3 linked regions of the Homo sapiens genome follow. The protein of the gene in region 1 purifies or fractionates together with the protein of each later gene. This does not show direct contact. Each region holds a gene or a part of one and is shown in the gene's direction. Other genes may lie near its edges. The genes, in order: SYDE2, PALM2AKAP2 and MPRIP.

Region 1 (3,660 bases):
AATATGTGTGTGTGTATATATAACATATTTTTATATTATATATGAAATATATTTTATTATATATTGTATGTATTTTTATATATAATATATAATTTAATATATAGGCAACAGTGAGACCCTGTCTCTACAAAAAAATTTATAATTTATAGGCAATATATAGGCAACAATGAGACCCTTTCTCTACAAAAATATTTATAATTTATGAATAACATATTTCATATATATGAAGCTAAAACTCTTAAATTTATGCTAATATGGTTAAACATTGTTGCATTAAATGGGAGGGCAGATTGCAAATAGCTTTCCATATCTATGAATTTACATTCATGTGGATCCATTTAATTTAAGTGAGATAAAAATGTTTTAATTATAAATAATTGCTCAAGTTTATTATCTTGAATAATGTGTTGATTAATTCAGTTTAATAAATAAATTTGGCCTTTGTAATATTATATATTTATAATACACAATATAAATTATAATAATGTGCCATTTATCTATAAGTTTAAAGTTCAGCATCATGTATTTTAAAATATTCGGCAATAGCAATCAGAGTGAATGGATTCAAGCTTTTGTAGTTTGTAATTTCATTGAAAATAGTGGCTAGACATGGTGGCTCACACCGTAATTCCAGCACTTTGGGAGGGGGAAACAGGAAGATCACTTAAGCCTGGGAGTTCCAGACCAGCCTAGGCAACATAGTGAGACCCTGTCTCTACCAAAAGAAAAAAAAGAAATTAGCCAGGTGTGGTGGTGCAAGCCTGTAGTCCTAGCTTCTTGGGAGACTGAGGCGGGAGGATCACTTGCGCCTGGGAGGTTGAGGTTGCCGTGAGCCATAATGGTGCCACTGTGCTCCAGCCTGGGTGACAAGAGTGAGACCCTATCTAGTAAAAAAAAATTCCTTTTAATATTATACTTTCATTAAATGATTATATCAATGGAAGTATCAACTTGCTTAAATATGGGATACTGGTAGCTTTATTTTTCTCACTGTAGTTCCTTGCAATGTAGTAGAAACATGTTCAAAGACTCATTTATAGTGTATGTCAGAAAACTCCAAAAAGATTTAAAATAATGAATGTGTCTAGCTATATAAAAATTTGGAATTTCTAAGAGATGTCTGAGAAAAAGATAAAATAAGATGTGGCTCATAGCCATCATGAGTAATGTAATTTTATACTGTTTGCTTCAAATTTAAATTGGGTCAAACTATAATATCCTGTGAAGGTCTGAAATACTGTTAAGTAATACTGGATTTGAACTTAAATGTGAAATAGATTTAGACTTCAGTGCACCTGGCAAAATCATGTGATCACTGAAAACCCAGAAACCCCAGTGATTGCTGAGTATGTTTTAATTTTCAGTTGTTAATTTTAAGTGTAATGGAGATAGAACCAGAGAAAGACTTTTGAATTTCCCTTATAGTAGCCTAGATATATCACCACAAACTTTGGAGTCAGAATAAGTTTGAGTGCTGCCTTTTCCATTTACCAACAAGGTACTCTTGAACAAGTTACTTGGCGTTTTTGAGTAGAACTTAATAGTTTTTCAAGTATTTTGAACATTATTTCACTTAGTTCTTACCAGCAGCCACTTTAATTTATAAGATAAATTGGGATGAATATCCCCATGTTCAGAAAGGGTTGCCTACTTCTGTACTGTTTGTGAGTAGCATGGTATGGGTAGCATCGTGTGGTTTGTGGGTAGCATGGTGAGTAGAGCATGGGTTTTAAGGTTAGACAGGCTTAAATTTGAATCCTAGGGCTAGCGACTTGACCATATTTCTCAAACTCTTTGAGGCTCATGATGGTAATCATACCTGTTTCATAGGATTGTTCTAGAGGTTAAATGAGGTTGGGGGCCTCCTTACTTCTTTATCTCTCATGCCTGCCACATAATAGTCACTCATTTGTGGAGTAAATAAATGCCTGGCATAGTAGGTATTCATGGGAGCTTCCTTGCCTTCTGATTTCTAGTCTAATTCCTGCATCTGGAATTGAATGTGACTTGCAATTTGTGTTTAAGGTTTGTTTATTTATTTATTTATTATTAATCTGCTTGGTTGGGTACATGTTTAGGATTTTGTAAAAGGAAAAATATATTTATTCATTTATTTTTAAGAGACAGGGTCTCACTCTGTTGCCCAGGCTAGAGTGCAGTGGCACAATCATAGCTCACTGCAGCCTCACATTCCTGGGCTCAGGCAATCTTCCCAGCTTAGCCTACAAAGTAGCTAGGATGACAGGTGTGTGCCACCACACCTGGCTAATTTTTAAATTTTTTGTAGAGATAGGGTCTTGCCATGTTGCCCAGGCTGGACATTTGGATTTTTTAAAGGATTTTCTTTTCAGTAGAAGGGAGGTTACTGAAAACCTTGATTCTGCATAAATCTGATTTTTTGGTTGTTTTAAGCTCCTTGTGGCTTAGTGTGTTTTATCACTCTATTTTTAGACCATTATTTTTTACTTGCTGTGCCAATAAGATGAGTTGACCATATAATTCCATAATTTAGAAACCTGAGATGATCTTAGATTTTTAAAATGTGGTTTTAATTATGTACGGTGAATTTTTATTATAATGATAGTTATATACTTAGCTTATGGACTGTCATTGAAGCCTGCTTTACAACTCTGGAAACACAAAATATTTTCCTCTTTAGATGAAATTAATGTTATGTATACATTTGTAGAGTCTTACTTATATTAAGATGTGCATATATCTAAGCATTTGAGGTCTCCCATTGGACTATTAATTTTTTTTTTTTTTTTTTGAGACGGAATCTCGCTCTGTTACCCAGGCTGGAGTGCAGTGGCACGATCTCGGCTCACCACAACCTCCACCTCCTGGGTTCAAGCTATTCACCTGCCTCAGCCTCCTGAATAGCTGGGACTGCAGGCACGTGCCACCATGCCCGGCTAATTTTTGTATTTTTAATAGAGACGGGGTTTCACTATGTTGGCCAGGCTGGTCTCAAACTCCTGACCTCGTGATCCTCCTGCCTCGGCCTCCCAAAGTGCTGGGATTACAGGCATTAGCCACTGCGCAGGGCCTGGACTATGAATTTCTTAAGGGAAGGGATTGTTTTGTTCATTCTTATTTCTCTGCTGCTTAAGTTTGTGCCTGGCCAAAAAAAATAATAGCTGTGTAGTGCATACTGTGAGACAGCATACCTGCTTCTAATCTGGGGCCTTCTGAAGGGATTTTTGTTTTTAGTTCTGCCCTAGATATTTAGAACTTAAACCCTACATAAGGTGCCATTGTGTTATGTGGATAGGAAGCCAATGTTATGTTGACATTTTAATATTAGTAAGGCATAGTTTCTTGTTAGGTTTGAAAGTTAATCTTTGTGTGAAAAGGGTAGGAGGAATATTATATTTCTAAGGACTTCTGGTCCTTGTAATAATGAATTGAAACTTATTCAAATATTGATTAGAGGTATACTATGAATAAAGCATTCTAGATAAACTTTTTATAAGGTATGTTTTGCTTAGGGTAAGGCTTTGTTAGCACTATAGTTTTTATAAAGGCAGGCTCAGAGTTTGTATATCCTTTTTCTTAGAATTCTTTGACACTTGTACTAGCAGTTTGATTTCTAAATAATATAAATCATATTTATATGTAAAATTCAAATTTTTTCTAGTTCAATTTTAGTCTCTGAAT
Region 2 (2,567 bases), on another chromosome or scaffold:
CATGAAAATTAAATTTCTCTATGGTGAAAACTAGGGGTCAAGTAGCAGATGAATACTGGCTGTGAGATGAATGCATAACCAGAACCTCCCATTCCCCTTTTTCCAGCGTCTCTCCTATCTCCCAGCAGTGCTTTATCACTTTCTCCTCTCAAGTTGATAAAGAGAAAGGAAGAAAGAAACAGAGAAGTCGGTTTATGTTCATAATTAACATCCATGAACTCTGCATAATTTTTTCCCCTCTCTTTACAGGTCCTCGAGGCCACACGGGTTAATCGAAGAAAGAGCGCACTGGCTTTGCGCTGGGAAGCAGGGATCTATGCCAACCAGGAGGAAGAAGACAACGAATAAACTTCCTTCAACCCAGGAAGCGTCTTTGGTGCTTGGGAGACCAAGAAACCAAGAAATTAACAACTGAAAGCATTTTAATGGACTATTTATTAAAGTGCAAACAAACTCAGCAATCCTTATGTAGACCAGAAGCTGCAATATACAATGATGAAAATGAAACGAAAAGGAAGTCCCCCCATCAGACTCTGGACACCCAGGAATCAAAAGAGAAAGGACTTTTTTGGTGACTCAATCCCAGTGTCTGGTTTGGGGCCAATCTACAATGGATCCAAAAGGACAAAACATGTTACAAGCAAATCAACATAGTTGCTGCAGGCGGAACTGAGACCAGCCTCTCTGGGCGATGAAGGACAATGGTGGTAGGGCCACTTAGAGAGCAGTAGGGCCCAGGCTGGTGCAGCCTACATGGCACAGGATATTTCCCTGCACCAGTTTCCCACCTGTCACTTGCAGCATCAGAGGGTGTTGCATTAACTCCATTTTCTCCAGCAGCCATAAAATGAATGGCGTTTCTCTCCATATTTGCCCAGAAGAGGCAGTTATGATTCCACTTCTCCTACATTTAATTATTTTTAATTGAGAACAACTCATGATCACAATTCATAAAATCCATATTTTAAGACAATAGTTCTTCATGTCACAAACACAATCTATTCTACATGAGGAGGCTGAGAAAGGGGAAGAGAAAAACAAACCAAATGGATGATGTTAGCTTTAGGATCGTGTCTGCTTATAATATTCACTGATCTGCAGTTTATGAGAACACATTTTCACAGTTATGTTTCTTCATAGGAAAACTATATTTAGTGGGCAACAACTATTTTTATGATGGGATGGGGGAGTATATACACGTATAGAATCTGTACGCGTTGAACAACTTGGTTCAAGATGGTGGGGGCATTTTTAGAGCGGCAATAATTGAAAAAAAAGGCGAACTCTGCCTTGGAGAGGTAGATGATAAGAAATAAAAAGGTGTTTATAACTATTTTGTATTATAAAGTGGGCCTTAGAGATAGGAAGAAGAATGATGGATTCCTTTTGGATCAATCAGAAAGGAAACACGAAAGAAAAGTCAGGAAGGTAGAGAGAGAAAAAGGGAGGGAAGGAGAAAGAATGGGAATAAAATAAGGAGGTAAGAGATACTATTTTTGCTGAGCAACCAGTGTGTTTCAGGATGATACAAAGAAAAATATAGAATAGAAATAAGTGCAGGCTTGGAATCAGCTACAAATCCTAAAGATGGGGTGTGTGTGGATGTGTGTGTGTGTGTGTGTACACCATTGTGTGTTTGTAAAATGTGTATGTTCATGAGTAAGGGTGTGTGTGTGTGTGTATTAAAATTCCAGAGTGACCGTGGCACTTGGGTGTACAGGTAATTCCTCCAGAGCTGTTTGCTGGCTTCAGGAGTGGAGTGAGAATTTCTTTTTTATGAAAAGGGATATAAAGGCACCGAGCTGATGCAGTATTTGTAATATTAAGTTGACCTAACAAGGTATTTGCATGAGTCACAATTACAAAGTTTTGAGCGGTTTTGTAATTTGACATTTAGGAGAGTCTCCTATTTATTCTCATACTTTACATTCATGCTTAGTATACTATAGAGGATGCCAGCTTTAATCTTTCTGTCATTTAAAGCAATATGATAAGGGTATTCAATAATTGGGTGCCCTAAATTTCTGGATGAGAAAATTTTCAATTCTGGCCATGAGAAAGAAAAAAAAATAAACAGCCTTCTTTTTTTTTCCTTTGTTTTAAAACTGTGGTTTTTTAAAAAAGCAATAATTAACTCAGACCTCACTAAAAATCATTTTTGTTTTTATATTGTTATGTCATAAGCTCTATTATGTTATTCTAACAAGTAGCAATTTCACAAAATTTGTATGTAGATGTTAACGCACATTTCCTTTGCTTCTTTTATTAGACTAGTGTTGACTTTGGGGGGGGACATTTATTCACAAATGAGAAGTAGGCACAAAGTAAAAAATGGAACCATCTACTAACAAGGATCCTTTAAAACTGCCAAGGGAGCTCTAACTTGAAGCCACATCCTACAGATGGCAGCCCAAATAGCACATGGGCAATTGGCACCATCTTTATATGGTTGAGTCTCCTGAATATTTTGAATGAATTCTCAACAAAATGTGCTAGCCACTGGGGACGCAAAACAAGTAAGATCCCTGTTGCAAGAAATTCATTTTATAGTGAGGGAGGTTGGCATG
Region 3 (3,660 bases), on another chromosome or scaffold:
TCCCCTAGAGAGGCACAGAAACCTCTTGCAGGGACTGTATTATGGCATCAGACCTGGAAGGGACTTGGAGATCAGCTAATGTAACCACTTCCTCTTACCGGTGAGAAGATTGAAACCCAGAGAAGGGAAGTGACTTGCCCAGTTCAGGGATGGAGCCAGGATTCTGAAGCCAATGTTAGTTCCCCTACTCCTGTTCAGGGTCTACAGTGGCCACACCATGAGCACATGATGAGGACAATAATGTCAGGGATAGTTATGTTGCAGGAGGTGCCTTGAGAATGCTGGCTTGGAGCAGTGGAGTTCTTTGCCTTTTCCTCCTCACGGAAATTTGGAGTAATCTGGGATAAGTGATAAGTGACCGTCCTTTATTACTTGTTCCAGGCCCCTGTTCACAGAGTGTCATTTATCCTCCAGTTTTCCTGTGCATTTCTCAGCGACATACGGACCCAAATATACAGTTTTTTTTTTTTTTTTGAGGCGGAGTCTCGCTCTGTTGCCCAGGCTGGTGTGCAGTGGCGCGATCTGAGCTCACTGCAAGCTACGCCTCCCAGGTTCATGCCATTCTTCTGCCTCAGCCTCCCGAGTAGCTGGGACTACAGGCACCCGCCACCATGCCTGGCTAATTTTTTGTATTTTTAGTAGAGACGAGGTTTCACTGTGTTAGCCAGGATGGTCTTGATCTCCTGACCTCGTGATCCGCCTGCCTCGGCCTCCCAAAGTGCCGGGATTACAGGCGTGAGTCACTGTGCCCAGCTCAAATATACAGTTAAACCTTTTTATCCTGAACTGTGTGCATGTATTTGCTCTGCGACATATTTTTTGTTTTCTGCTTATCAGCATATCTTTACGTTCTTTTCATGGTGTTGCATATAAAGATGCCAGAACCATTTTGCATATTAGGCCTTTAGGAGTGTACTATAATTTAACCCGTTTCCTTATTGATAGACATCAAGGTTGCTTATGGGTTTTGCTGTTACATACAGTGAATGTTTCGGCAAAGAGTCTTATAAATACTTCTGGGTGTGTGTGCGTGCATGCATGAATGCAAGTATTTCTCTGGGGGCAGATACCTATAAATAGAATGGCTGGGTTGACATCAAGCGCATAAATTTTTTTTTTCAGATACCACGAAATTGCCTTCCAAAAAAGGCTGTGTGATAACATTTCCAGGACTGGATATTATCAAATGATTTAATTCTCTAATAATTTTCCTAATTACTCATGAAGTTGAGCCTTTTTTATAGTATTTACTGAGTATTTTTGTTTCTTTTGTGGATTGCCTGTTCGTATTGCTTGCCCATTTTTCTGTAAGGTTAGTTTTTCCCCCAGTTGATTTGTAGGAGCTTTCTATAAGTGCTTTAGGTCAGGGGTCTGCAAACTTTTTTGGTAAAAGGCCAAATAGTAAATATAATTTAGTGTCTGTGGGCTATATGGTCTCTGTCACAACTGTGCAGACTTTGCCGTCTCATCACAAAGGCAGCCGTAGACAACACATTAACGAATGAGTTCGAATGAGTTACTGTGTTCCAGTAAAACTTTATTTACCGGCAGGGCGCAGTGGCTCATGCCTGTAATCCCAGCACTTAGGGAGGCTGAGGTGGGTGGATGATCTGAGGTCAGGAGTTCAAGACCAGCCTGGCCAACATGGTGAAACTCTGTCTCTACTAAAAATACAAAAACTAGCTGGGTGTGGTGGCACATGCCTGTAATCCCAGCTACTCCTTGGGAGGCTGAGGCACGAGAATTGCTTGAACCCAGGAGGCAGAGGTTGCATTGAGCCAAGATCGTGCCACAGCACTGCAGCCTGGGCAACAAAGTGAGACTCCTTCTCAAAAAAGTAATAATAATAATAAATTTAAAAAACTTTATTTACAAAAACAGGCAGCTGGCATGATGTGTGGCCTGTGAGCCATAGTTTGCTGACCCTGAACTAGATATTAATCCGATGCTTGCCACGTATTGCAGGTATTTTTTCCCAGAATGCCACTTGTCTTTTTTGTGTGGTTATTTTTCTTTTTCATAATATAAATGCAGTTGGTCTTTTTTTTTAATAGTTTGTAGTTTTAATGTCATGTTTAAGGCCTACTTTCCAAGATTTGTAAAATAATTTCTCATATTCTTTTATAGCTATTTTTATACTTAGCTTTTTAATCTATCAGACTTGTTTTTTAGGAAAATAATTCTGGTTAAAGGCAGAAGATCTACTGGAGGCTATTAAACTGGGTAAATTACAATCAAGGCATTCTCTCCAGATCAGTGCTGGTGAGGATGGAAGGAATCAGACTCTAGGGACAGGATGTTGTTGGTTGATCAGAGGTGGGTGTTGAGGAACCTGGGGTAGTTAGAAGTACCTTTAACAGAGATTGAGAAGAACAGATTTGGAGTAAACTTGGGGGATGGGGAGGGGTAAAAAATAATATGGTAAGTTTGACCCTTATGGACGTAGAGGGAGGCTGGGTTGGAATTCTTAAGTCTTGGATGTGGAGGTGGTTGCTGAAATCATGGGAGTGAGTGTGAGCACTCAGGAGGCTGCATAGAGTGAAAGGAGAGGAACCAGCCTAGGAAGCCCCCATGTAGTGGGCAGGCAAAAGGGGAGCAGGTGCAGAGGCTGGGAGGTGAATCAGAGGGGTGGGCATTAGTGGGAGAAGCAGGTCTGGAACCCAGGGTGCTCAGCTTCTACATCCGCGTGTTGATCTGGGGGTGATGTCTCTTTCTCCTGCTGACTGTGTAACTTCAGGCATTGCCTCTGTGGAAGGAGCCTGCAAGCCTGTTTCTACTTCTTTGTCTAGCCCTGTTTTTTTGTGGGACCTTGGCTGGGTCATTTTCATTGCTCAGGCCTGTTTTCCCATCTGGAAATGAGCTCGGTCTTGATCTCTCCCAGGGTTCTTAGTCTTCCTGGTGTGATTCTGCCCTTGCTGTGCCCATACCCCACTGCCAAGGCTCCAAAGCTGCGGGGGCCTCAGGTGGGAATTTCAGACATAGAGGGTGTGGGCCAGGACGAGGTCTCAGGGAAGCATTTCATCAGGTTTCCCTTTGTTCCTGTAGACATTCGTAGAAGTTCTAAGGCATAGGACTTCCTGATTTGACTTAATGTGTATCTCAGAAACAACGGGGAGATTTCGCATCCCCCCCTTGTAGAAGATCTGTAACAGGAGTTGGTGTGTTGCTTGGCAGGGAGCGTGTCAAAAATCTCAGACACACAAAATCCCATTTCAGACGGCCAAGCACCATGACAAATGCTCAGCGTTGTCATCAGCGAAACCCAAATTGAAACCACAGTGAGATATCACTTCATACCTGTCAGGATGGCTAGAATTAAAAAAATAAGAATATAACATGTTGGCGAGGATGTGAAGAAGTTATAACTCTTGCACGTTGCTGGTGGGAATGAAATGGTGTAGCTGCTGTGGAAACAGTTTGGGGGTTTCTCAAAAAGTTCAGCATAAAACCTACCACGTGAGCCAGCATTCCCACTTCTAGGTATATGCCAAGAAGAATTGAGGACAGGTGTATTCAAACAGATACTTGTATACAAATGTTCATAACAGCACTACTCACAATAGCCAAACGGCAGCAACAATCCAAGTGTCCATCCACTAATGCGTAGATAAGCAAATCATAGTGTATCCATACCATGGAATATCATTCAGTTCTAAGAAG

The links.
Region 2: the proteins of SYDE2 (region 1) and PALM2AKAP2 purify together in Homo sapiens (affinity purification with mass spectrometry; one large-scale study listed by BioGRID and IntAct). This does not show direct contact.
Region 3: the proteins of SYDE2 (region 1) and MPRIP purify together in Homo sapiens (affinity purification with mass spectrometry; one large-scale study listed by BioGRID and IntAct). This does not show direct contact.

The regions. Positions count from the first base shown.
Region 1 is NC_000001.11:85,190,868-85,194,527, reverse strand, and holds part of SYDE2 (rho GTPase-activating protein SYDE2), read left to right. Parts: intron 1-3,660.
Region 2 is NC_000009.12:110,168,150-110,170,716, forward strand, and holds part of PALM2AKAP2 (PALM2-AKAP2 protein isoform 3 (PALM2-AKAP2)), read left to right. Parts: intron 1-249; coding exon 250-348; 3' UTR 349-2,567. UniProt on the Homo sapiens protein: Binds to regulatory subunit (RII) of protein kinase A. May be involved in establishing polarity in signaling systems or in integrating PKA-RII isoforms with downstream effectors to capture, amplify and focus diffuse, trans-cellular signals carried by cAMP.
Region 3 is NC_000017.11:17,045,350-17,049,009, forward strand, and holds part of MPRIP (myosin phosphatase Rho-interacting protein), read left to right. Parts: intron 1-3,660. UniProt on the Homo sapiens protein: Targets myosin phosphatase to the actin cytoskeleton. Required for the regulation of the actin cytoskeleton by RhoA and ROCK1.